Regions from separate parts of the Homo sapiens genome. Here regions 2, 3, 4 and 5 are each linked to region 1. Evidence: fine-mapped expression QTL. A gene starts in region 1. Each other region holds a variant in brackets. All regions are shown on one strand. Distances are between the middles of the regions. Region 1 holds the start of COG4 (component of oligomeric golgi complex 4). Region 2 holds the start of IL34 (interleukin 34). Region 3 overlaps SF3B3 (splicing factor 3b subunit 3). Region 4 overlaps FCSK (fucose kinase). Region 5 overlaps FCSK (fucose kinase).

Region 1 (5,082 bases):
CTCGAACTCCTGACCTCGGGTGATCCACCCGCCTCGGCCTCCCAAACTGCTGGTATTACAGGCATGAGACACCAAGCCCGGCCATATACATTTTTATTAAAATCGTTCTGTAGGTTCCAGAGGAAAACGTCCTCTTGACAGTCATGGAATACAAATACAGTACTTATATCATTTTGTCTGTAAGATTTCCATAATTTTCCACCCAACATATTAAATGACTGAATGAATGCGAGCTTAGGAATGTTAAGTCAAGATACTAAATTTTTTTTTTTTTTTTTTTTGAGACAGAGTCTCACTCTGTCGCCGAGGCTGGAGTGCAGTGGTGCGATCTCGGCTCACTGCAAGCTCCTTCTCCCTGGTTCACGCCATTCTCCTGCCTCAGCCTCCCGAGTAGCTGGGACTACAGGCGCCCGCCACCACGCCCGGCTAATTTTTTGTATTTTTAGTAGAGACGGGGTTTCACTGTGTTAGCCAGGATGGTCTCGATTTCCTGACCTCGTGATCCATCTGCCTCAGCCTCCCAAAGTGCTGGGGTTACAGGAGTGAGCCACCGCGCCAGGCTTTTTTTTTTTTTAAGAGACACAATTTTGCTCTTGTTGCCCAGGCTAGAGTGTAATGGCGCTATCTTGGTTCACTGCAACCTCCGCCTCCCAGGTTCAAGCAATTCTCCTGCCTCAGCCTCCCGAGTAGCTGGGATTACAGGCATGCGTCACCACACCCGGCTAGTTTTGTATTTTTAGTAGTGATGGTTTTCACCATTTTGGTCATGCTGGTCTCGAACTCCTGACTCAGGTGATCCTCCCGTCTTGGCCTCCCAAAGTGCTGGGATGGCAGGCGTGAGCCACCGCGCCCCGCAAGATACTAAATTTTAAAACACATCTTGCTGAGGCCAGACAAAAAAAGCCCCACACACTAAACTAGCCAGGCACGGTGGTGTGCGCCTCTGGTTTCATCCATTCTGATTGCAGCACAACAGCACTCCAGCCTGCGCAACAGAGAGCGGCCCTGTTTCTAAAAATAACAAAACAAAACAAAAAACACCACACACATCTTGCTGAAAAACGTATCAGAAACTGCTAGAGTTAGTGCAAGTTTATACTTGAAAATACTCAAAGATATCAACGATCACCTCTCCCTCAGGCTGAAACTGCCTTTTGTGCTCAACTTTGCTAGAAGTTTGGTCTGGGAAACAGCTGACAAGCTTAGAGCTTAGATCTCTTTTGACTAGCAAGGAACCCAACTGACATTCGAAAGTGAATTGACAGCATCGAGTTGCCACTGAAAATTAAAGGAGGCAGGAAATAGAACGTTATGAACTGAAAGGAATTGGAGAATAGTCCACACCCCTCATTTGATAAAATATCAAGGGTACCAGAGATGAAGTGACTTGTCCAAGATTAGAGAATTGTGTCTGAGTCTTAAAAGCTAAACCTCTACAAAGATGTGCATTTGACCAAAACGCTAAAATCACACCCCCAAATCACTCCCCACAAGAGGAAGTCTTAAAACGCTTCAAGAAGTTAATCTGCAAAGGCTTCCCTCTTAAATAACAGGATGAGAGCGTTTCATAATTTGTAAATTAAGCCAATGCAAAAGGGCGCTTATTATTTTGAGAACCAAGCAATTTGGCAAATACTCTCAGACTAACTTTACTCCCGTGGAGAAACTGGTGATCATGGATCAGGGAAATCAACGGGGGTCTAGGGAGGAGAGGCTGCAGATCGCCCAGGTATCAGGGAAGACAAGCTCGGCGCGTCCGACAGCGTGAAAAGAGTTGACAGGACTACTCATATACCCGACTAGCTTCCGCTTCTTTGTTTTCCCGCTTTTTTGTATCCCCCAGCAAGGAGAGTTTCCCACAGCCCGGATTTCCCGACTGAAGGCTCCCACTCTCCCTAGATCCTCCATGAAAAAGAAGAGGCTCGACCCCGCACCTCCTCGCCGCAGAGCCGTTCGTATACAGCCTCCAGCTCCTGCAGCTCTGTCAGGGAGCGAATGAGCTCAGCGGAGATTTCGGAGCAGCGGCCACCTCCCACCCCCTCAGACGGCTGCTGCACCCCTGACAGCTTCGGAGGCGAATCAAGGTCCGCCATCTTGGTCCCCATTCGGCACTTCCGGTCCCGCGAGGCCCCCTCTTCGTTGGCGCCTATTTGGGGCTGCCCACAGAAGTGCCCAATGAACTCTAATGGTTTTTTTTTTTTAAAGTCTACTTCTAAAAACGTATTAATTTTCTATTCTCCTGGAAAAAGCAAAGCAATAAAGCATGTTTAAATAATTTGTAATGCCGTGTGGAAGCAAGACGGAAGCATTTTTTAAAAATTATATATATTCTTCAGGCGCGGATTGGGTGCCTTTTTCCGCCGCGCGCCACCAGAATGTCCCTGTCTTGAGGTCTAATGGCGGACGCCAGTATGTTGGAGTTGGTGGTGGCTTAAGTTTTGAAGGGAGGTAGCATCCGTTGGATATCCACACCATCCTTCTCGCTGCAGGGTAAAAAAACAGCCTGGAGACTTCCCCGGGCCCGGGGAGGCGGAGACCGGCCATATGGAAGGGGGACCCGAGACTTTGGCGGGGGTCACGGGCAGTCTAGGCCCGAGAGGCTGGGGACCAGGAGGAGGTACCGAGGGATGGTTGAGGCGCCAAAACGGCTTCCTGCAGTTATCTCTCGCTTCCATCCACAGTGTGGGAACATATTCTATCTCAAAATAGGGCTCGTGGAGATTGCTTTTAACTTCTGGGGACTCTGAGACGGGGGAGGTGTGACAAGCAGCGGGAGGCATGGATGTCTCCCTCTGGGTAGAGTAAATGGTACACCGAGGGGAAGATAGAAAGATGGAGCGTGTTAAAAGCGTAAATAACGGAAACAGTCTTTAGAGCCAAGACTCCGGTTTGAATTTGTATTTTGGTAGTTGGGCAACTTGTCTCCTCCTCTGAACCTCTATTTTCTCGTTTGCGTAATGGAGGACAGAGTTTAAATGCGATGATGTTTCCTTGGAGGATGGAGAAGATGCAGTGAGCAATCATACAAGCTTTTTGTAATAATGGTAAACAGACGTGGGGGAAGTTTTTTTTGTTTTGTTTTGTTTTGTTTTTGTGACGGAGTCACAGTCTGTCGCCCAGACTGGAGAGCAGTGGCGCGATCTCGGCTCACTGCCATCTCTGCCTCCCGGGTTCCAGCGATTCTCTTACCTCAGCCTCCCGAGTAGACTAGCTGGGATTACGGGCGCGTGCCACCACGCCCGGCTAATTTTTCTTTTTTTGAGACGGTGTCTCGCTTTGTCGCCCAGGCTGGAGTGCAGTGGCGCGATCTCTGCTCACTGCAAGCTCCGCTTTCCGGGTTCACGCCATTCTCCTGCCTCAGCCTCACGAGTAGCTGGAACTACAGGCGCCCGCCACCGCGCCCAGCTAATTTTTTGTATTTTTAGTAGAGACGGGGTTTCACTGTGTTAGCCAGGATGGTCTCGATCTCCTGACCTTGATCCACCCGCCTTGGCCTCCCAAAGTGTTGGGATTACAGGTGTGAGACACCGCGCCCGGCCCAGACGTGGGGGAAGTTTTAAAGCTTACCAAATTTATCTGGTATGTATTTTTTGTTTGTTTGTTTTGTTTTTGAGACGAAGTCTCGCTGTCGCCCAGGCTGGAGCGCAGCGGCTTGATCTCGGCTTACTGCAGCCTCCTCCTCCTTGGTTCTAGCTATTCTCACGCCTCAGCTTCCCGAGTAGCTGAGATTAAAGGCGTGTGCCACCGCGCCCGGCTAGTTTTTGCATTTTTAGTAGAGGGGTTTTCACTGTGTTGGCCAGGCTGGTCTCAATTCCTGACCTCAAGTGACCCATTTGCCTCGGCCTCCCAAAGTGCTGGGATTACAGGCGTGAGCCACCACTGCGCCTGGCCTCGTATATAGTTTTTCTAGTACTGGACTGATCCTCCGAAATGCACCTTCCTCCACGATCCAAAGTTAAGGTGTCGCTGGAGAACCTGAATCCAACTAGATTTGGGAAAAAATGAATTCCAAAGGTTTGTAATGGATTGTATCAGTTATAAGGAAAGGGGAAAGTAGACTGTTTTGATCAGCTACAAAATATGAAAAGTAACTTGCGGGGAGCTGTTCAGGGATTCAGAAGCAGCTCCTAGCTTCCTCTCTTTTGCTTTTTTTGTTGTTTCTCCACTCCCTGGTCTTTCAACATCGGTCCTTTTCGTTCATGTTTTACTGTGGTCCTAGAACGTTAAACATATACCTTAGTCTATGGGCTGGGCGCGGTGGCTCAACGCCTGTAATCCTAGCACTTTGGGAGGCGGAGGCGGGCGGATCACGAAGTCAGGAGATCGAGACCATCCTGGCTAACATGGTGAAACCCCACTAAAAATACAAAAAATTAGCCGGGTGTGGTGGCGGGCGCCTGTTGTCCCAGCTACTCGGGAGCCTGAGGCAGGAGAATGGTGTGAACCCAGGAGGCGGAGCTTGCAGTAAGCCAAGATGGCGCCACTGCACTCCAGCCTGGGCGACAGATTGAGACGCCTCAAAAAAAAAAAAAAAAAAAAAAAGGAAAAAAAAAAGATATACCTTAGTCTCAAGTAGAAAATTTTATATCTCTCAGGACCCATTTCTAGCCTGGAGCATTGATCTTGCCACCCTGCTTTTGCTCAGCCCAGAAAGTTATTTATGAGGACGTTTACTCATAATTCTCTCTTCTCGTTTAACAATAAAATCAAATATGTATGTTAATTCTATACTAATGACCTTGGATTTCTCAAGGTCCCGTGCTTTTTATTTATTTATTTTTTTTTTTGAGATGAGGTCTCATTCTGTCGCCCAGCCTGGAGTGCAGTGGCATGATGTTGGCTCACCACAACCTCCGCCTCCCAGGTTCAAGCGATTCTCCTGCCTCAGCCTCCCGAGTAGCTGGGACTACAGGCGCACAGCACCATGCCCAGCTAATTTTTGTATTTTTAGTAGAGACGGGGTTTCACTGTGTTGCCCAAGCTGGTCTCGAACTCCTGACCTCGTGAGCCACCACGCCCGGTCACATATGTTGTTTCTTAATAGGGCTTGCTCTGCTGGTTCTGCTGTCTTCATCCAGAATT
Region 2 (5,099 bases), 130 kb after region 1:
CCTTTCTCTTCCTAGAGCCAGATTTCACACTGAGCAGCTGCAGTCGGAGAAATCAGAGAAAGCGTCACCCAGCCCCAGATTCCGAGGGGCCTGCCAGGGACTCTCTCCTCCTGCTCCTTGGAAAGGAAGACCCCGAAAGACCCCCAAGCCACCGGCTCAGACCTGCTTCTGGGCTGCCATGGGACTTGCGGCCACCGCCCCCCGGCTGTCCTCCACGCTGCCGGGCAGATAAGGGCAGCTGCTGCCCTTGGGGCACCTGCTCACTCCCGCAGCCCAGCCACTCCTCCAGGGCCAGCCCTTCCCTGACTGAGTGACCACCTCTGCTGCCCCGAGGCCATGTAGGCCGTGCTTAGGCCTCTGTGGACACACTGCTGGGGACGGCGCCTGAGCTCTCAGGGGGACGAGGAACACCACCATGCCCCGGGGCTTCACCTGGCTGCGCTGTGAGTACTGGGGGGTCCCTAGGGACCTGCATTGGGAGGCCTTGGCCTAGATCCAGGATCTGCCGTAACCATAGCAACCAGGGCATTCTTGCTGGTGAGAAGTTGCGATGCTTCCCAGCCGGACTGCAGACACCCTCTGAGATTCCCACGGCCGCCGTCTGCCCTGTCTGCCGCTCACTTCGGGCTCCGACGGGCAAGCTGGGTGGGCAGTTCTGGCTGGGTGGGCATGGTCCTCAGGGTGGTCTTAGGTCGGGGCAGGCACTGGGGGTAGGTGGCAGCATCTCACCTTTCCAGGCTTGTGGGTGTTGGGGAGCCCCGGGCGGGCAGCAGCGGCCCAGTCCTGGGTATGGCCGGTGGAGGGGGGCAGGGGCTGGTGAAAGTGTCTAGGGACCCAAGACCCACGGCAGAAGAGCAGCCAGATGCCTGGAGAAGGCAGCCTGTTCCCCTCCAACCCTCCCTCCATAACAGAACAGAATTAAAAAGCAGAAAGATAACACTGTTGGTAAAAAGAAAAATAAGTTGAAATGAGGACAGAAAGGAAAAAAAGGATCTGGAAGCCTCTTATGCCTGCTGGCTGGGAGGCCAGACCAAGATCCCCTCAGTCTCCAAGATCCAGTTCAATTGACTCAAATTCAACACATTTTTCCGGTGCCTCCCACGTGCCCACTGCAGAGTCACTGCCATGACAACAAGGACCTTGCTGTCTCGTGCCTCTGTCTCCAACGCCTGGCACAGGGTTGAGTGCTCAGGAACTGTTGGAGGTTTGGGGTATGAGCCTGCGAGGGATTGAAAGAAGAGTTGGGTCCACCCTGGCCCTTGTGGAAATATACAACAAAGGGTTGGGACATTAAGGATGGGTGGAAGGACCCAGCTGGACCCAATGTTCTGGAAACCCCTAGGTCATGAGAAGCAGGGGTGCAGCATGGGGGAGGGGCTACTGGAAATGGTCTAGAAGGTGGGGTGGTGGTCACACAGGTAGACCTGGGGTCATGAGGCCCATGTTCCAGGAAGAGGGGCCAGTGTGAGCAAAGGTTTGGCGGTGGGATGGTGAGGCCAGGCTGGGAGCTGGTTTGGACCCGGCTGGCTGAGGCCTTGAGAGCCAAGCAAAGTGTGCCTCCCTCCCCATAGCAGGCAGCCCTGGAGGATTTGAGAGCCCGGCGGGGGTGGAATCGTGATTGGGAGTTCCTCTGCTCTTGAAGATCAGTCTGGTGGTGTTTGTAGGAGTTACTGCTGTCACCGTCTGTGCAGGAGGGAATGAGGGTCATTCTGGAGGTGGAGGTGCGAATGAAAGGCAAGGGATGCTGGGCTGGTGGCTCACGCCCGTGATCCCAGCACTGTGGGAGGCCAAGGCAGGAGGACGGCTTGAGGCCAGGAGTTTGAAACCAGGCTGGGCAGCATAGCGAGACTCCATCTCTAAAAAAAGGAAAATTAGCCAGGTGTGGTGGCATACATCTGTAATCCCAGCTACTCAGGAGGCTGAGGTGGGAGGATCACTTGAGCCCAGGAGGTTGAGGCTGCAGTAGCAAGGATCGCATCACTGCACTGCAGCCTGGGCAACAGGGTGAGACCCTGTCTTTAAAAAAAAAAAAAAAAAAAAAAAGGAGAAAAGAAAAAGAGAGAAAGAAAAGCAAGGGAGAGGGGAAAAAGCTCCAGGAGGGGTGGGTCTTAGGACCAGGCAAAGACTGGCTGGGGGATGAGGGAGAGGGAGAGCAGCAGATTGAGGTGGGGGCTGGTGCCCAGGGGCTGGGGTGCTGAGGAAGTTGGGCTGCCATAACCAATTAGAAAGCTTCGGGTGGCTTAGAGCAACAGGAATGTGTCGTCTCACAGTTCTGGAGACCGGAAGTGTGAGATCAGGGTGCCTGCAGGGCTGCGTTCCCTCTAAAGGTGCCGAGAAGGAGCCTCCCTTGCCTCTTCCAGCTCCTGGTGGCTCCTGGCTTCCTTGGCTTGTGGCCTAGTCACTCAGATCTCCCTTTGTCTTTG[C/T]GTGGCCTTTCCCTTTGTGTGTCTCTATGTCCTCTCCTCTTCTTCCTAGGACACTAGTCACTGGATTTAGGGAACTGCCTAAATCCAGGATGGCCTAATCTTGACATCCTTCATTTAATAATGCCTGTAAGTGGCACAGGACAGGCGAGCCCCCAAGGGGGCTTAGCCTGCGAGGGTTCTTGGCTTTCCCTAGGAGAGAATTCAAGGCAAGCTGGTGGTAGAAGAAAACAGCTTTACTGAAGAGATGTTATAGCTCTGTGCCAGCTCCTGCAGAGCAGGGCTGTGCCAGAGGAAGCGTACTGAGGAGCAGCTCGGGGCCTTTTGCAGTCATATTTATACCCACCTTTAATTGCATGCAGATTAAGGGGCAGTTTATGCAGACATTTCTAGGGAAGGGGTAGTAACTTTTGGGACATTGGGTCATTGCTATGGAAAGCGGTGGTAACTCCCAGGCGTTGCCATGGCAATGGTAAACTGACATGGCACACTGCTGAGCATGTCTTTTGGAATGCTGCTTCTGCCCCGTCCACCCCTGTTTTCACTAGTCCTCAGTTTGGTCCAGTGTCAGGGCTCTGCCTCTGGAGTCGGTCCTACCTCCTACTTCACAAAGACCCCATTTCCAAACAAGGTCACACTCGGGTTCGGGTGAATGTGGATTTGGAGGAGATGCTATTTAACCCACTGCACAGGTTCAGATTTGGTCCCCGGGGCTGGGGGTGACAAGCCTCACTTGTCACTGCACATAGGGTCAACCCAGGGCCAGGGAACCAGGAAGGGAGTACCGTACTCACACAGATCTTTCTTAAGCCTCCTCTCTGTCTTGCAGGTTGTTTTATTATTTTATTTTTATTTTTATTTTTTGAGACGGAGTCTCACTCTGTCACCCAGGCTGGAGTGCTGCGGCACGATCTCAGCTCACTGCATCCTCTGCCTCTTGGGTTCAGATGATTCTTGTGTCTCAGCCTCCCGAGTAGCTGGGACTACAGGCACCTGCCACTGCGCCTGGCTAATTTTTGTATTTTTAGTAGCGATGGGGTTTCACCATGTTGGCCAGACTGGTCTTGAACTCCTGACCTCAGGTGATCCGCCCACCTCGGCCTTCCAAAGTGCTGGGATTACAGGTGTGAGCCTCCGTGCCCAGCCTGTGTTGTGGGTTCTTACCTCTGGGCTAAGACAAGGGCAGGGTGGGTCTCCTGACCAAGGTCAGGGGTGGCACTGGCTGTGGGGTTCCTGGTGTGCAGAGCATGTGGGGGACAGTGGCCTTGAGGTTGGGGCTGTGCTGTCCCTGCCTGGTCCCTGTTTGTTAACCTGTTTCTCTGGGTGGGTGGAGGCAGCAAAAAAAGAAACTTGCCCTTAGCAATGATGTTTGGGCTGCACTCAGAGGAAGGCTGCCCAGTTGGGGGAGAGGCAGATCATCTGTGGACAGGGTTTCCAGGGCAGCTGTGTGCCCACCGTGTCAGGCTGGGAGGCTCAGTGTCACTCCAAGGCACAGTCCCTGCCTTGAGGCCACAGCTGCCGGGTCCCCAGGGCCCCAGAACGGGACACAGAGAAGGGCAGGTGCTGTAGGGTTGGGAGGTGAAGTAGACGGCCAATGGTGATGGCCACACAGGAAAAAAGACCCAGTGTGGACAGAGGTACTGATTTTTTTAAAGAAAAGCTGAAATTTTGAATTGTTGTGTGAAATCCTTGTGGACCAGAGGTGGCTCTCGGGACACCAGCTTGCAACTGTTGCTCTAGGTCTGTGGTTCCAGACCCCCAGCCACAGCTTTACCTGGGACCTTGTTAGAAAGGTAGACTCTCTGCATCCTAGACTGGTTGAGCAGAGACTCTGGGGCAGGCAGGACAACCTGTGCCTTAACGAGCTCTGCAAGGGATGACAATGTCTGCTCCCATTTCTACTGCTTGAGGCGAATCCCCAAATGCACATGTGAAGTTCTCAGCACGCTGGGCTGTGCAGTGTTTAACTGCGTTATGGATTCACACACAGGCTCACGCCTGTAATCCCAGCACTTTGGGAAGCCGAGGTGAGTGGATCACGAGGTCAGGAGTTCAAGACCAGCCTGGCCAACCTGGTGAAACGCCGTCTCTACTAAAAATACAAAAAAAATTAGCCGGATGTGGTGGCGCGCACCTGTAATCCCAGGTCATGAGTGAATGGGGAAGGTGGTGCTGGAGACAGAGACCGATGGGGGCTGATGCAGAAAGGGGAGACCCTGGCGTGGTGATGGGGGGGAGAGAAGAGTCTCTGGGAGGCTTTGAAAGAGGTCTGTGTTGTGAGAGGGTACCTAGCGCAGGGCAAAGCATGAGCCCAGGAGGCAGGGATGATCTTGACCTGCAAGAGTAGATGCTAAGCTGAGGGGTTCAGGACTTAGGACAGAAAGTAAGCAGATGTTAAAGGGCCAAACACTGGTTCAGTTCATGTTTATCTGTTCTTCTCACCCAATACTGTATCAGGCACAGGGGAAGAGGGAGAGAGGAAGTGCAAGATAGATTGCAGACTTGCAACTTAGCAAAAAATGTGGGGCTATATGGGGTACAGGGCTTGAGGAGACCTGAGGCTCTGAGCTGAGCAAGGGCACTCCTGGTGGGAGGTCCTGCAGGGACAAAGGCGAGGCAGGAGGCCTGAGCAGGGCAGGTTTGGAGAAGGCAGTGGGGAGGTAGCAAATGGGTGGTGTG
Region 3 (5,099 bases), 50 kb after region 1:
CTCCTTTCCCGGTGGGGCTTGCCAGAGACTGTGTGTTTTGTTTCCCCCACCACCATCACTGCCACCTGGCTTCTGCCATGTGGCAGGAGGGTGACTGGATAATTAAGACTGCATTATGAAAGTCAACAGCTCTTTCCCCTCAGCTCTTCTCCTGGAATGACTGGCTTCCCCTCAAATTGGCACTGAGATTTGCTACACTTCTCCCCACCTGGTACATGATACATGACCCCAGGTTCCAGTGTAGAACCTGAGTCCCCCATTCCCCAAAGCCATCCCTGCATTGATATGTCTTGACTCTCCTGTCTACTTTTGCACACACCCTTAATTTTTAATTGGTTTTCTTGTAAATACAGTTTTGTACAATGTTATCTCTGTGGGAGGAAGGAGGCAGGCTGTGGTGGGACTGGGTAGGGTATAGTATCACTCCTGAGTTCCACTGCTCTAGAATCTAACCAGAAATAGAAACCTAGTTTTTAAGGTGACTGGCATCCATGTGTCTTGTTCTGGAGATGAGGATGTAGGTGGGAGGTTTGAACCCAAGTTAGAGCAGGAAGAACTGAGTAGACTCCTTCCTTCCAGATACCGACTTGGACTTGCGGCACTCTGTGGCTCCCCACCCCCAGGTCTGTGGTGGTTTCTTTGTTTTTTCCTGGTTCTTTTTGCTGTGCTGATGAAACATGACCTCAATAACCATGTGTATACCCACCCCTCTTCCCACTGGGTATTGAGGAAGGGTGGCTGATTCTTCCTCCTCTTCTACTCTGAGGATGTTAGTATGGGGATTTTAGCATGAATTCTAGCTGGGGAGTCTTAACAGATGCCCCTTTTACTGATACAGCACCTAAAGCGATCTTTGGCTCCATAGGACCATAGGAAGGGTCAGTACAGAAGAACCTAGATACTGCCCTGCCCCTGAGAACTGTGTATATGTGGGGCCTGTCTGCAGCACCCATCTCAGGTGGGTTCCAGAGGGCCTTTAGGGTATAATGAGAGCCTGTTAGGTGGAAGAGGCCCAGTTCCAGAAATGTTCCAGCCCACCCCTGAGAATTCCTCCTGTTTAGTTGTGTGGGAAGCCCTCGTCTTCCAGGCTGTCCTTGCGCCTTGAACCTGGAGAAGTGAGCTCACTGTTCTCAATACTTCACAAATGTAAAACTTTCTTTCGTCTGCATGTGCTCAGCCATCTAAATTGAGCAAATGATCTGGTGAGCACTGGGTTAGAATCAGGAATGGTGGAATACAATCTGAACCTCTCAGAGCCCAGAACAGAGGGTTCCTGACACTGTGACACTGTCTCCTGGAACTAAGTATCTCTTGAATCATGACTTGGTTTTAGATCAGTCAAGAGAGACCCAGGTTTTGCCAGGAATCGAATCCCTAAATAACATGTTTTTTTCTCACTTAGCTCATGAATTTGCATAGTAGACAGTAGTTCTGAATTAGATTTTGAAAACCTAATTTCAGGGCTCATTTTTTCCTGTGGCCCTAAATCCATTCTATCAAATTGTGTGATACTGACATGCAGTCATCTGAGGAACTCAGCGTAGATACTTGAGCAGCTCCTCGCCTCTTTTCTAACTCAAGTTTGACTAAAATACATACACTCCGTACAGAAGGTAGGGGGTTATGTAAGAAAGGAAAACCTAATCTATGGAATCAGGAGTTGTCACCACCGAGCTTCCTCTGGAAGTCTGCCCATCAGCTTGCTTGTTCTCTGTTAAGAGGAAGGGCTAGGACAAGGATTTGGGCTTGAATATGTGGAAAGGAATTTTCATAGTTGTTGCTGCAGGACCTACAAAAGTTTAAAATTAGATTGGATGTGACTCAATGACAAGTCCCATCTGTGTAATTGTTAAGGGGACCTGATTGACTCCTGTGGTTTGATTGAGCAACCAGGTAAATAGAGACCTCTCTCCAGCTTTGGCAAAACCCATCAGAGGCTGCTGCAGAACTCAGACAGAGGGATCTGCCCTTGGGTTTGCTTCCATCCTGTTCCATTGCTAAGCCCTTGTGACTTGGATCCTAGGACTGAAAAGTTTTTAGCTGCCTCAGCTTTCCCCTGACCTTACTGGCAGAGGTTCTGCAGATGTTTCCTTTGGAAGATCTCTTGCCAAGAATAGCATTCCTTTGGAGGAGGGGGGTTCTAGTTGGAATGTTGCTTTTCTTGGTTAGTGTAAATGTATTGCTAGTGAGACAGCTGCCGGCGCTGGAAAAGGCTCGTCTCACAGGGAGAGTGCTGGTCCCCAGAATGTGTGCTGTTCCCACGCTGCTGCCTTTCTTGAGCTTGTTAGAGGAAAGCCAGAAAGGCATTCAGATGGGATCAGTCTGGCTTTCAAATTTTTTTTAATTCCTAAGTTCTGTTTTATTTTTTAATTTTT[T/A]AAAAAAAATTTTATTAGAGACAGTCTCTCTCTCTTGCCTAGCTGGGAGTGCAGTGGAGTGATCATAGCTCACTGAGGCTTGAACTCCTGGGCTCGAGCAATCCACCTCAGCCTCCAGAGTAGGGGAGACTACAGATGTGTGCCACCATACTCAGCTAATTTTTAAACTTTTGTAGAGACAGGGTCTCCCTGTGTTGCCCAGGCTGGCCTCGAACTCCTGACCTCAAAAAATCTTCCTGCCTTGGCCTCCCAAAGCACTGGGATTATAGGTGTGAGCCATTGCGCCTGGTCATAAATTCTTGTTTTTTTGTTTGTTTGTTTATTAGAGATGGAATCTCTCTCTCTTGACCAGGCTAGAGGGCTGTGGTGCGATCTCAGCCCACTGCAACCTCTATCTCCTGAGCTCAAGCGATCCTCCTTAGCTTCCCAAATAGCTGGAACTACAGGCATGTGCCATCACGTCCAGCTAATTTTTGTATTTTTAGTAGAGAAGGTTTTACCATGTTGGACAGGGTGGTCTCGAACTCCTGGCCTAAAGTGGTCCACCTAGCTCAGCCTACCAAAGTGCTGTGATTACAGGCGTGAGCCACCATGCCCAGCCTCTAAATTCTGTTTTCTATTCAAAGTAAAAATGACATGTGTTTGAGTCATCCACTTGCTCATTTGCATATGGAATATTGTATGTGAATATTTTATTACACCCTTAAAATTAATTTTCAAGGGCTATATGTAGAGCTCAGAAGAAACATCTCTGCTGCTGAAATCAAACCTGGTCCAAAAAACGTCACAACGGAGGAAAGGAATAGATGGCTCTCGAGGACAAGATAGGGACTCTTAAAACACCTGCTTGGCCATGGTTGATTGACATTTGAGTGATCTGGTAGCCCAACACACCCTGTGAAGTTCAGGTGAACTGAAATGGGCAGGTGTAGGCTACACACCAGTCTGAACCAGCACAACCAAGAGTTGTTTCTCTTTTTTTTCTTTTTCTTTTTCTTTTTTTTCTTTTTTTTTTTTTTTTTTTTGAGATGAAGTCTTACTCTGTTGCCCAGGCTAGAGTACAGAGGCACAATCTCGGCTCACCACAGCCTCCGCCTCCTGGGTTCAAGCAATTCTCCTGCCTCAGCCTCCCAAGTAGCTGGGACTACAGGCATGCACCACCATGCCTGGCTAATTTTTGTATTTTTAGTAGAGATGGGGTTTCACCATGTTGGCCAGGCTGGTTTCGAACTCGTGACCTCAGGTGATCCACCCACCTTGGTCTCCCAAAGCGCTGGGATTACAGGCGTGAGCCACTGCACTTGGCCAGGAGCTGTTTAAGCCATCAGGAGACATGCTGACCCACTAGAAGAGGCTGCTACGCTCATTTCTTCCACAAACGTTTACTGGGCACCTACCATGAACCACCACCTCCCAGCTCTGTTCTGCACCCAGAGGTTGGAGGAGAGTTTATAACCAGGCAGTCTCTGTCGCTGTGAGGTTGGTGGTGAGGTGAGTCTGCCAGAGGGCCTGCCACCAGTTTCAGAAGAGCCTGCAGCCTGCATCTGATTTCCTCAGCCACAACCTTGGGACTTCAGGAAAAATCAGAAGGTCCCAAGTCTGAAAAATGAAGAGGTGGGGAGTGGGCAGCAGGGGTTTTAGGTCAGGAAATGGTAGGAAACCTGTAGTTGTGGCTCATAATCCTAGTGGGATATTAGAACCCTCTTCATTTGTCAGAACAGATTCCTGGGGTCTGCTCCCAATTATTCACACGGTGGTTCATGCCTGGTAATCCCAGCACTTTGGGCGGCCAGAGGCAGGCAGATTGCTTGAGCCCAGAAGTTTAAGACCAGCCTAGGAAACAGACCCCATCTCTACAAAAAATTCAAAAAGCCGGGCGTGAAGCCCTGTTTTTTTTTTTTTAAAAAAAGAGTCTGCTGGTGATGTCTGGGCATGTGTCTGCTTCACAGTCCAGTGTTATGATCAGTAGCTGTGATGGACAATGAACATTGCTGCTTGTTCAAAATGAAGAAAAAAAATATCAAAGAAAACCAGGTTTGGAAGTTTCAGATTTGGAAAAGGAGCTGGGCCAGCCCATCTGGAATAGCTGAGGGGCCCTGTTAGCCCCACCCTACCCCACCCCACCCCCGTATGCAGCATCTCTGGCGGTGCCCAGAGGCAAGCCCCCTTCAGTTTCCCACCTCTCACTCTGCCTTCCAGAGCCTAGTCAAGTTTTAAATTCCCAGGTCCACTCAGCAGAACTTGCTCCCTTCTCTGACTGCAGTCTCATAATGAAAGGAGAGGTGCTTTCAGTTGGGTCATTTGGTAGCGTTTAGGCTTAGAAGTTACTAATTTGGAGCCGTGAGTATATGTGTATAAGCTAGTAACACGTGATGGTCAAGGGAAGTACTACCATTTCCTGTGGGTTATTAGGGCCTCCAGCTGTTATGAGGACACACTGGGGAATCTCAGCTTTAGGGAGTCGATGATGTAACTGGAGAAAGGCAATGCTGCCCTCATAAAGCAATCAGAAACGAGATTCCACCTGCCAAATGCCAAGAGGCAGCAAAGTCCATGAAGAGAGCACTGTATACAGTCAGATGACCTGGGCTCACTAGCCTCTAAGCATAGTCTTGGTTTCCTGCCTGTAAATTGGTAGAATAAGACTGATTTACTGGGCCTGGCATGGTGGCTCACACCTGTAATCCCAGCACTTTGAGAGGCTGAGGCAGGAGGATCCCTTGA
Region 4 (5,088 bases), 42 kb before region 1:
CTGCTGGGCCAGTGCCTGACCTCGTACTGGGAGCAGAAGAAGCTCATGGCTCCAGGCTGTGAGCCCCTGACTGTGCGGCGTATGATGGATGTCCTGGCCCCCCACGTGCATGGCCAGAGCCTGGCTGGGGCAGGCGGTGGAGGCTTTCTCTATCTGTTGACCAAGGAGCCACAGCAAAAGGAGGCCTTGGAGGCGGTGCTGGCCAAGACCGAGGTACTGATGGGGCTGGGGTTGGTAAAGAGACCTCTGGGGGCAAGAGACCTCACTGTGGCCCACCAGTTAACCAGGGGCTATATCTGTAAGTCCCCCTGGTCCTGCAGGCCCAGTCCAGCCTCCAGAAGGCCTGAGATTTGTCCAGAGCCTTCTAAATACTTCCTGTCTTGTCCAGGGCCTTGGGAATTACAGCATCCACCTGGTTGAAGTGGACACTCAGGGCCTGAGCCTGAAGCTGCTGGGGACCGAGGCCTCAACCTGTTGCCCTTTCCCATGAAGCTGGCTTCTCTCTGCAACAGGAGAAAACCTGGAGCTACAGTGTCCCCCACCTTCCTTGCCCCATGGGAACCTCCACCTCCTACTCCCCACCCACCTCTGCGAATCTGCTCCCAAAGGAAGCTGACCAGAGCAAGATCTGGGCAAGCAGAGAGTGCCTGGGACAGGACTGTGACCTGGTGGACAGGGGCCTAGATGTAGCCTCTGTTCCTCCTGGACATAGGAAGGTCCCAAGCTTAGTATCCCACGTGGCCTTTACAAATCCTATGGCTGGCCTTCTCATTCCACAAGGGCCCTGGAAAGGGTTGACAGCCAGCCTTGGCATATGGCTGGGAGTCCCTTAGCAAGGCCAACCCTGAAGAGGCCCTTTGAGGCATTCCCTATGGCTTAGAGTTGTAGACTTACACTCAACCCTCATGTGAGCGTGGGAGTGAGGGTGGCGGTCCCTTGCCAAGTTGGTAGCAGTGACCCAGTGATTCACTGCCATCCCAGGCCTTAACTAGCAAAACTACGGAGCGTGCCAAGTGACCTGGTGCCTGTGGGAAGTGGGTTCTCAGGACTGGCATTCTTGGAATAAATTCACTCTGTCCTTGCAGGTGGTCCTCGTAAAGTCACTTTTGCTCCTGCTGGGAGCAGTTCCCACTTCTCTACACCATGGGGAACTGGCCCTGGGGTGATCCAGCTTGTGGTGCTGGGGGCCCAAGAGGGGCACGAGGGTCTGGGACTGGATGGGGGCTCCTGCCATCATGTGGGCCCCGGACACAGCTGTGTGCTGCACTGTGTGTGGGAGCAGGCTGAGGTCTTGGGTTTTACCTTCCTATTTCAGTGCAACTGATAGACCTGCCCTGCCCCATAGCATCTGGCCCTCCCTGGTAACAGCACACTGGCATCTCTCCAAGGAGTAGCTTTATTCAGGGATCATAAACATCACAGCCTCTCCTCAAAGTCAAGCCTAACTGCTAGGTCCCCAGATGTACCCAAGTTGTCTAGGACTGGCAGGGGTAGCTTGTTTGCTGTAGTGTTTGAGGGCAAGAGACTGACCATCCATGCAGAAAGCTGGCCTGGGCTGCTCGCTGCCTGCCGTGGCTTTCCCACCTCATTAGGAGCCCGCTTCTCTCGGTGGGGAGATGCTGCCCCCAGAGCATCACCTGGCCAGGTCTGAGGGCAGAGCATGGAGTGGGTCCAGACTTTGTTTCTCTGCTGCCAGCCGTAGAAAGGTCTGGGCTGTCAGATCTCCCCCAAGCCAGACAGCCTCGCTCAGCTCCTTGGCTGGGGCCCCTTAGGGAACAGGCCTGCAAGTGTGATGAGCCAGGTGTGCTCATCCAGGCAGCTACAGGCGCAGCCTCTTGATATCTTCACTGCGGAAGTCTATCCGCAGGGCCAGCACCTGGCGCACTTCAGCAGGGGTGAGGCGCCACGTCAATGGGCCGGAATTGGGTCCCCAGTAATCGAGGATCTCGGTCACCTGTGGGGAAGGACATAGAGACCAGTCAGCAAGGTGGGGTTATTCTGAAAGAGGGCTCTGGCCTCTACCAGGGGCAGAGCAGGGGCACCCGGGAAGGGGAAGGTGTCCTATAGAGCTGGCTGCTGGCAGACATGGTTTAGAGGGAAGTGGCGGGGATCCATCTTTGCCTCTTTCAGTCACCCCTCCCTGGCTGGGCCAAGGGTGCCCCACCTACCCGCTCCAGATTGAGGATGGTGGCCATCTGGGAGAGCCGGGCAAACTTGTCTCGGATGGTCCAGGTGGTCACCGTGGTAAGGTAGGCAATGAGCGACCTCAGCTCCTTGTCAAACTGCAGACCACCCAGCTGCAGGAGAACCCAAGCCCAGTCACTACTTAGGCCTGGCCAAGCAGAACTGGCCTCCAGTTGCCCCCAGAGCTGGGTGGCAAGGCCCGCCAGGCCTCAGGTGGTGCCCTGTGGTTTGTTTGCTCTACGGCTTCAGAAGCCAGAGCAGGACTGGACCCAGACATGCAGGGCCTGTGGGCAGCAGACAGAGGGGATGCAAGTCCTGGGGG[T/G]GGTGGCATGACATGTCTTCCTCAGAGGAGAAACGAGAGCCGCAGACCCATGACCCCTTTACCTTACCCGGTTAAAGGTGGATTTCAGCACCACTTTCTCCAACTCGACGGCAACAAGGCTAGTCATGAGGCCGGTTAGGCTGTCGTAGATGACCGGGGACAGGCTGGCCTGCACACAGAGGGTTGACATCAGCCGAGCCCCACCTAACTCCTCTGCCTCTATGCTGGAGTCTTAGGTGGTGAGGATAGTAGCGTGAGGCCACGGGGGAGTTTCTACAGGTGAGGGTTGGAAGGGCTTTCAGGGTCCCCAGAAGGAATGTGATGAGACCCTGCAGGCTGCTGGTTTGGGCTGACGTGGGTAATTCCCTAAGTGGATCCCTAGGGCCCCTGCTCACCTTGAACTCTGCCATTTGCTGCTCCAGGTTAAGGATGAACTGTTGTACCCAAGGGTCGTTGGCCTCATAGTCATTGAATTCTTCCTGTTGTCAGGAAGCAGGGCTGGTCACCATGGGCCTCATAAGAAGTACCATTCATTGCCACCCACCTCTATCCCTCTAAGAAAATAATGTAAAACATTCTTCCTTCCCTGTGCCTTCTGACTCATCTAGTTTAAAACCAGCTCAGACACCCAGGCTGGCAGAAACTGACCAGCAAACAGCCCAGGGCTGTAGCAGTGGCCCACATAACATGGTAAAGTTCCTGGCATTTTATTCCTTCTTGGATCTCTTGTTCTACAGGAATGAAATCACTACGCCAGGAGGAAAAAAACGCTTCTAAGTCTATCATAGGCGGGGCAAAAAGAGCTCCAATAAGGGAATAAGTTAGGTCAAGGCAAACTCCATGTCTTTCTGAGCCCTTCTGACTAGGGACAAACTGTTTCCTGGGAGGAACCTAGTCTTCATGGGTCAGGGTGGGGGAAGTGGGCCTGGGAAGCATGGAAGGTCTAGTCTGTTCAGATGGCTCTGCTCCCTCTAGCTGGGGCTAGGGATGAGGGGTCATCGGGGCTTGATGGCTGCCTGTGGCCAGGCTAACCTCCTCGATGTTGTGGGAGACGGAGAAAAAGCTGTTGATCCAAGGCTGCACCTGTGGCTTGATGGCTGTGCTGTTGAGCTCCGTCAGCCCTTCCTGCACAAGGACAAGGTGGAGACATGTGACACAGAAGGCACGACTCATCCCTTCCCTCTCTCTTCTCCCCATCCCTTCCCTCTATCCTCTCCCCATCCCTTTCCTCTCCTCTCCCCATCCCTTCCTTCTCTCCTCTCCCCATTTCTTCCTTCTCTCCTCTCCCCACCCCTTCCCTCTCCTCTCCCTACCCCTTCCCTCTCCTCTCCCCACCCCTTCCCTCTCCTCTCCCCACTCCTTCCCTCTCTTCTCCCCACCCCATCCCTCTTTTCTCCCTACCCCATCCCTCTCTCCTCTCCCCACCACATCCCTCTCTCGTCTCCCCACCCCTTCCCTCTCTCCTCTCCCCACCCCTTCCCTCTCTCCTCTCCCCACCCCATCCCTCTCATCTCCCCACCCCTTCCCTCTCTCCTCTCCCCACCGCATCCCCTTCTCCTCTCCCCATCCCTTCCTTCTCTCCTCTCCCCACCCCATCCTCCTCTCCTCTCCCCATCCCTTCCCTCTCTCCTCTCCCCATCCCTTGACTGCAGGGCGTTCTTCCAGCCCTGAGGCTTTCTGCAGGCCCTGTTGGAGGTTATAACAGAGCTAGTGCTAATGAAAGGAGGAGCCAGGAACATGCCCCTTTCCAGATCTCAGCTGATTCAGGTCCAGGGTAACGATGAGGCCTTGAGACTGTTCTGATAAACTCTCACAAGAGATTTCAGAATGCTCAATGTTAGGCAGCACCTGCGGCTAGGTCAGAACAACCATGTGGCTCCACTTCCTCTGAGCATCTTCTGAGAGCTCTTGTCATTGTGGGGCCAAGTGCAAAGTCTAGAGCACCAGATGTTGGCTTGTCAGTGTGACAACTTCACTGCTGAGAAACCAACAGGGCCTTTAGTCTCAAGGGACCTGCACAACTCCAGGCTCCAGGGCTTGCGTGCTGCTCCCTCACCCGTCCTCCTGGCTTCCTTGCACACGATGAGCCAGCTAACAATCTTCTCAGAGCAACACACAGGCACAGGATTCAGTCAGCAGTTGAACCTGGGGCTTACCTGCAAGAGGTCTCGGAATTTGTTGGACACGGCGGCCAAGTCAGAAAGGCAGCTGTCAAACTTGGCCTGGGCCTGCTCCCCTCCAATGCCCTGGCTGAAGAGCTTGGTGCAGTCACTCTAGGGGAGAACACTGCTGTAAGACCACCGAGCACGCGTGGGCCATGGGAGTGTGAGGAGCCACCAGCCAGTTCTACTCCTCCAGCCAGCTATGGCCTGTCAAGAGCCCGGATGGGTTTCAGAAAACCTGGATTCTATCCTGGTGGTTATCCACTTGGCTCCCACTTCCCCCTCTGTAATATGGGGGTACCAATGTCGGGGAAGTGAGTAAGAAACAGAAATACCAGAAAGTTTTTCCTGTCTTTAGAGTCAGACATTCCTAGGTTCAAGTCCTGGCTCAGTCATGTATTAGTTGAGTGACCTTGGGCA
Region 5 (5,099 bases), 51 kb before region 1:
GGCTCCTGGGGCCCAGATTGTGCACTCCCAGGTGGAGGTGAGACCTCCCTGCCCCTCCGGTGCCTGCTGGTTGTCTGGGGTCAGGTGGGATGTGGATTCCCGGGAAGAAAATAGCCGGCACTTGGAACAGATGACCCGAGTGCAGGTGTTACCCTGGTTTACACATGAAGTGCTGGAGGCTCAGAGAGGCTAAGTAACTTGCCTAAGGCCACAGAGCCAGTAAGTGGCCAACTCAGGATTCTGCATTGAGCTTGCCTGATTGAGAAGCTAAAGGAGACCTTTATTTGGGGTCTGCCTGGGGTGACAGTGGTGGGCCTGGGTCAGTGCCGTGCTGCTGAGGAAGGGGACAGGTAGGGTTCAGAGGTGGCCCCCAGGGTGGCAAGGTTGGGCGTAGTTGGACAGGTGGGATGGAAATAGGTCTCAGGCTGGGGCCAAGGCAGGTCCAGAGAGGAGTCTAGGGTGCTGCAGGGCAGGGGAGCAGTAGGCCTGGACGCTTTGCCCCTGGATGCTTGGCTTGGGAGGAGAGCTGGGGCAGCCCTGGGCCTCGACCCCCCTCATGCTCCTCCTACCTGGCTGCACAGGAGCAGCAGCTTCTGGCGGCCGGGAGCTCTGTGGTCAGCTGCCTGCTGGAGGGCCCTGTCCAGCTGGGTCCTGGGAGCGTCCTGCAGCACTGCCACCTGCAGGTGAGGCCTGAGCGTGTGGGCAGATTGGGGCGAGGGTGCTGGCATCCCGCATGTGTTGGGGGGTGTTGGGTGCCTGCCCACCCAGGATGCCTGCCCTGTCCCCCACCAGGGCCCCATTCACATAGGCGCTGGCTGCTTGGTGACTGGCCTGGATACAGCCCACTCCAAGGCCCTGCATGGCCGGGAGCTGCGTGACCTTGTCCTGCAGGGACACCACACGCGGCTACACGGCTCCCCGGGCCACGCCTTCACCCTCGTTGGCCGTCTGGACAGCTGGGAGGTAGGCAGTCACCCTGCATTCCCTCACCCCCATCTTCAGGCTTTGGGGAGCCCAAGGAGTCCTGGCCCCCACCCCACTGCGGGGTTCTCTGAGCACTGGCCCGTGGGACAGGCTGTGAGGAGGGTCGGATGTAGGGAGGAGAGAATGAGGGAGGAGATAGGGTGAAGATAGGCTGTGAGACCAGCAGAGTCTCCACAGGCCTTTACCTCCCTCCTTGCATCTGCTCTGCCAGGTGGGCTGGGTGGGGATTTTGTTTTTTTTCTGGAGATAGAGTCTTGCTCTATCACCAAGGCTGGAGTGCAGTGGCCCAATCTCAGCTCACTGCAATCTCTGCCTCCCAGGTTCAAGCGATTCTCCTGCCTCAGCCTCACGAATAGCTGGGACTACCAGCGTGCACCACCACGCCCAGCTTAGTAGAGATGGGGTTTCGCCATGCTAGTCTGGTTGGGTGGGGTTGTTGTTTTTTTTTTTTTTTTTGAGACTCACTCTGTCTCCCAGGCCGGAGTGCAGTGGCGCAATCTTGGCTCACTGCAAGCTCTGCCTCCCGGGTTCACGCCATTTTCCTGCCTCAGCCTCCTGAGTAGCTGGGAGTACAGGCGCCCACCACCACGCCTGGCAAATTTTTTTGTATTTTTTAGTAGAGATGAGGTTTCACCGCGTTAGCCAGGATGGTCTCAATCTCCCGACCTCAACTGATCTGCCTGCCTCGGCCTCCCAAAGTGCTGGGATTATAGGTGTGAGCCACCGCGCACGGCTGGGTGGGGGTTTTTATCCTTATTTGACAGGCTAGAGACTGGGATTCAGAGAGGGAGGTAACCCGCCTTGGGCTGCAGCCTGTTGTGGTGGGCTGGGCCTGGAACCCAGGGTTCTGCTCCAGATTTCAGGCACCTTGGCGGGAGTGTTGGGGCTGCAGGGCTGAAAACAATTTCAGAAATTGCTCCATGGCTGGGTGTAGTGGCTCATGCCTGTAATCTCAACACTCTGGGAGGCCGAGGTGGGAGGCCAGGAGTTCATACCTGCAGTGAGCTGACCACACCACTGCACTCCAGCCTGGGTGGGTCAAGTATGTTCTTTGTCTGTCTTCCTGCCCTCATGTGAGCACTTGAGCAGCTCCTGGCCCCCTGGCCGAGTGTCTCTAACCCTTTCCTGTGGCCCCTGCAGCCCTGACTGCTTCTTCCTCTCCCCCAGAGACAGGGGGCAGGCACATATCTCAACGTGCCCTGGAGTGAATTCTTCAAGAGGACAGGTGTTCGGTAAGGTGGACACCCCTAGGGCCTCTGTGGGCCTGGGCAGCTGGGGTG[G/A]CTGCTGCTCTTTGAGGTGTGTCCCTCCCCTGCCCCAGAGCAGCACGGGCCGTGTTACCATCCAGGGGCCTGGGTGGTTTTGGGCAGCCGGATTCTCTCCAGTACTTTCCCCCGGGCAGCTCCCAGTCTCTGGCTGTGCTGACTTTGGCTTTCTTGTTCAATGGTCTGGGAAAGGATGCCAGGCAGCCTGGCCCCCGACCTGAATTGCCCACTTATGCTACCTCGGAGGAGTCTGTCCTGTCCCCATGAACTGACAGGCGGCTCAGGGCTTGGGGAAGAGACTGGAGCTTTTGCTTCCCTCCTGGGAATGTGCCTTCTCCCCACATCAGAGCCTGGGACCTGTGGGACCCTGAGACGCTGCCCGCAGAGTACTGCCTTCCCAGCGCCCGCCTCTTTCCTGTGCTCCACCCCTCGAGGGAGCTGGGACCCCAGGACCTGCTGTGGATGCTGGACCACCAGGAGGATGGGGGCGAGGCCCTGCGAGCCTGGCGGGCCTCCTGGCGCCTGTCCTGGGAGCAGCTGCAGCCGTGCCTGGATCGGGCTGCCACGCTGGCCTCTCGCCGGGACCTGTTCTTCCGCCAGGCCCTGCATAAGGCGCGGCACGTGCTGGAGGCCCGGCAGGACCTCAGCCTGCGCCCGCTGATCTGGGCTGCTGTCCGCGAGGGCTGCCCCGGGCCCCTGCTGGCCACGCTGGACCAGGGTGAGTGTGCAGGCTGGTAGTGCTGCAGAATCAGGCCAGGGGCACCTGCCCTCCCTGTCCTCTGGGCCATCCCCTGAGGGGACTAGGGGACCATGAGGTGCTCAAGCAGGGAAGGGGCATGCTGGAGTTTACTTTTAGGATTCTGGAAGGCCTCATCCTTGTCAATGGGGTTTGGTCTGAGGTTGAGGCATGTTCATCCTTGTCAGTGGGGTTTGGTCAGAGGTTGAGGCCTGGCAGCTGAGCTCTAGGTCCTAGGCACATCGGCAAACCCTGCGTGTTCTGTACTGGGTGCCAGGATGTGGGTGCAGAGCGTGGCGAGGGGACAGAGCCCCCAGGGGACATGGTCATCTCTGCATGAGGTCCCAAGCACACTTCCGGGGGCTCACAGCCTTAGCCTCCTAGGCTGAACCTCATGGAAGGTCCCAGGGACCGTGGACATGAATGGTATTGAAGCCACTCACCCAGAGCCACACGGCTAGCTGGTGGTGAGGCTGAGACCTGAGCCCAGGTGGTTTGAGCCCAGAGCCTGAGCTCTTCACCACTATGGGTGTCCTGGGTGGGGGTGAAGAGACACCTATGGGCTGGGACTGGCAAGACGAGATGATCTCTGCCAGGCAGAGAGCAGGAGTGCAGTTACAGTCAAAGATACATTGTGGGCAAAAGCCAGGAGGTGTGAGGGGTCTGGCGCATTTAGGGACTGTTGAGTAGCCTCTCGTGAAAGAGGATTTTGAAGACAGGCCTCCTCCCCTGCCACCCCCAACTCCTTGTCCCTCAGTTGCAGCTGGGGCAGGAGACCCTGGTGTGGCGGCACGGGCACTGGCCTGTGTGGCGGACGTCCTGGGCTGCATGGCAGAGGGCCGTGGGGGCTTGCGGAGCGGGCCAGCTGCCAACCCTGAGTGGATGCGGCCCTTCTCATACCTGGAGTGTGGAGACCTGGCAGCGGGCGTGGAGGCGCTTGCCCAGGAGAGGGACAAGTGGCTAAGCAGGTGTGTACTAATGGAGGTCAGATCCCTTGGATAAGCCCCTTGCTGTCTGGGAAGTGGACCCTGATGGAGGAAACCCAGAGAGAGGTGGGGCTCCCTTGGGTACCCCGGGACAGTCAGGTCCCCAAAGCCAGGCAATCTGCCCCCAGCTTGGGGCTGCATGCCACCATCCCTCCCCCTTCTCTTGGCAGGCCAGCCTTGCTGGTGCGAGCGGCCCGCCACTATGAGGGGGCTGGTCAGATCCTGATCCGCCAGGCTGTGATGTCAGCCCAGCACTTTGTCTCCACAGAGCAGGTGGAACTGCCGGGACCTGGGCAGTGGGTGGTGGCTGAGTGCCCGGCCCGTGTGGATTTCTCTGGTGAGCCCCTTGTGGCAGGTGGGGTTGAGGGTAGCTGCCCCAGAGCCAGGCTGGCAGCTTCTGTGACCAGCTTGAGTCTTGCCACACTGCCATAGGGGGCTGGAGTGACACGCCACCCCTTGCCTATGAGCTTGGCGGGGCTGTGCTGGGCCTGGCTGTGCGAGTGGACGGCCGCCGGCCCATCGGAGCCAGGGCACGCCGCATCCCGGAGCCTGAGCTGTGGCTGGCGGTGGGGCCTCGGCAGGATGAGATGACTGTGAAGATAGTGTGCCGGTGCCTGGCTGACCTGCGGGACTACTGCCAGCCTCATGCCCCAGGTCAGGCACCCTGGGACCTCTGCAGGTGGGGCTGGCCAGCTGGGGGCTCGGGGCAGAAGCTAGAGACTGCAGGCCAGTGGGGTCTGGCCTGAGGGCCAGCCAGTCTGGCTGAGGAGCCTGAAGGGAAGGAAGGGGCTGGGAGTCAACCTGCAAAGATGACACGTGTCCCTGTCTGGGAGCCCAGAGGCCCTTTTGTGGCTTGGGGATGGGGCCAGTACTGCTGCTGGGCTTTTGTCCCACCGGATGAGTCCCGCACTGGGCTGGGAAGTCCAGGGTGGGTGGGTGCCTGCGTCTGCCCATCGAGACTGAATTCCTTTCTCATGCCTGTCCTTCTGCAGGGGCCCTGCTGAAGGCGGCCTTCATCTGTGCAGGGATCGTGCATGTCCACTCGGAACTCCAGCTGAGTGAGCAGCTGCTCCGCACCTTCGGGGGCGGCTTTGAGCTGCACACCTGGTCTGAGCTGCCCCACGGCTCTGG

What was found.
Region 2: its variant is fine-mapped to the expression of COG4 in prefrontal cortex (GTEx, PIP above 0.99).
Region 3: its variant is fine-mapped to the expression of COG4 in whole blood (TOPMed, PIP above 0.99).
Region 4: its variant is fine-mapped to the expression of COG4 in whole blood (TOPMed, PIP above 0.99). The same link has a PIP of 0.9 or more in lung, prostate, spleen, thyroid and tibial nerve.
Region 5: its variant is fine-mapped to the expression of COG4 in spleen (GTEx, PIP 0.96).

What each region holds. Positions count from the first base shown.
Region 1 is chr16:70,521,439-70,526,520 of GRCh38, forward strand. COG4 (component of oligomeric golgi complex 4) reads right to left here and starts at 2,116. Exons shown (of 19, transcript NM_015386.3): 1 at 1,935-2,116. The coding sequence starts at 2,105. It overlaps SF3B3 (splicing factor 3b subunit 3), which reads left to right and starts at 2,378. Exons shown (of 26, transcript NM_012426.5): 1 at 2,378-2,490. RefSeq lists enhancers at 1,749-1,888, 2,922-3,659.
Region 2 is chr16:70,646,533-70,651,631 of GRCh38, forward strand. IL34 (interleukin 34) reads left to right here and starts at 27. Exons shown (of 6, transcript NM_001393494.1): 1 at 27-443. The coding sequence starts at 416. RefSeq lists an enhancer at 3,259-3,759. The variant C/T (reference allele first, on the strand shown) is at 2,424.
Region 3 is chr16:70,571,817-70,576,915 of GRCh38, forward strand. It overlaps SF3B3 (splicing factor 3b subunit 3), which reads left to right. Exons shown (of 26, transcript NM_012426.5): 26 at 1-5,099. Among named protein-coding and RNA genes, the nearest start is that of SNORD111, 36 kb to the left of the region's middle. RefSeq lists an enhancer at 3,856-3,925. The variant T/A (reference allele first, on the strand shown) is at 2,376.
Region 4 is chr16:70,479,191-70,484,278 of GRCh38, forward strand. FCSK (fucose kinase) reads left to right here. Exons shown (of 24, transcript NM_145059.3): 23 at 1-213; 24 at 389-1,084. The coding sequence ends at 490. It overlaps COG4 (component of oligomeric golgi complex 4), which reads right to left. Exons shown (of 19, transcript NM_015386.3): 14 at 4,663-4,779; 15 at 3,539-3,631; 16 at 2,902-2,985; 17 at 2,574-2,675; 18 at 2,169-2,297; 19 at 1,381-1,954. The coding sequence ends at 1,820. Among named protein-coding and RNA genes, the nearest start is that of FCSK, 27 kb to the left of the region's middle. RefSeq lists a silencer at 1-10. The variant T/G (reference allele first, on the strand shown) is at 2,507.
Region 5 is chr16:70,470,390-70,475,488 of GRCh38, forward strand. FCSK (fucose kinase) reads left to right here. Exons shown (of 24, transcript NM_145059.3): 11 at 1-37; 12 at 582-683; 13 at 793-963; 14 at 2,152-2,216; 15 at 2,594-2,964; 16 at 3,740-3,950; 17 at 4,139-4,305; 18 at 4,401-4,622; 19 at 4,961-5,099. Among named protein-coding and RNA genes, the nearest start is that of FCSK, 18 kb to the left of the region's middle. RefSeq lists an enhancer at 441-1,376. The variant G/A (reference allele first, on the strand shown) is at 2,265.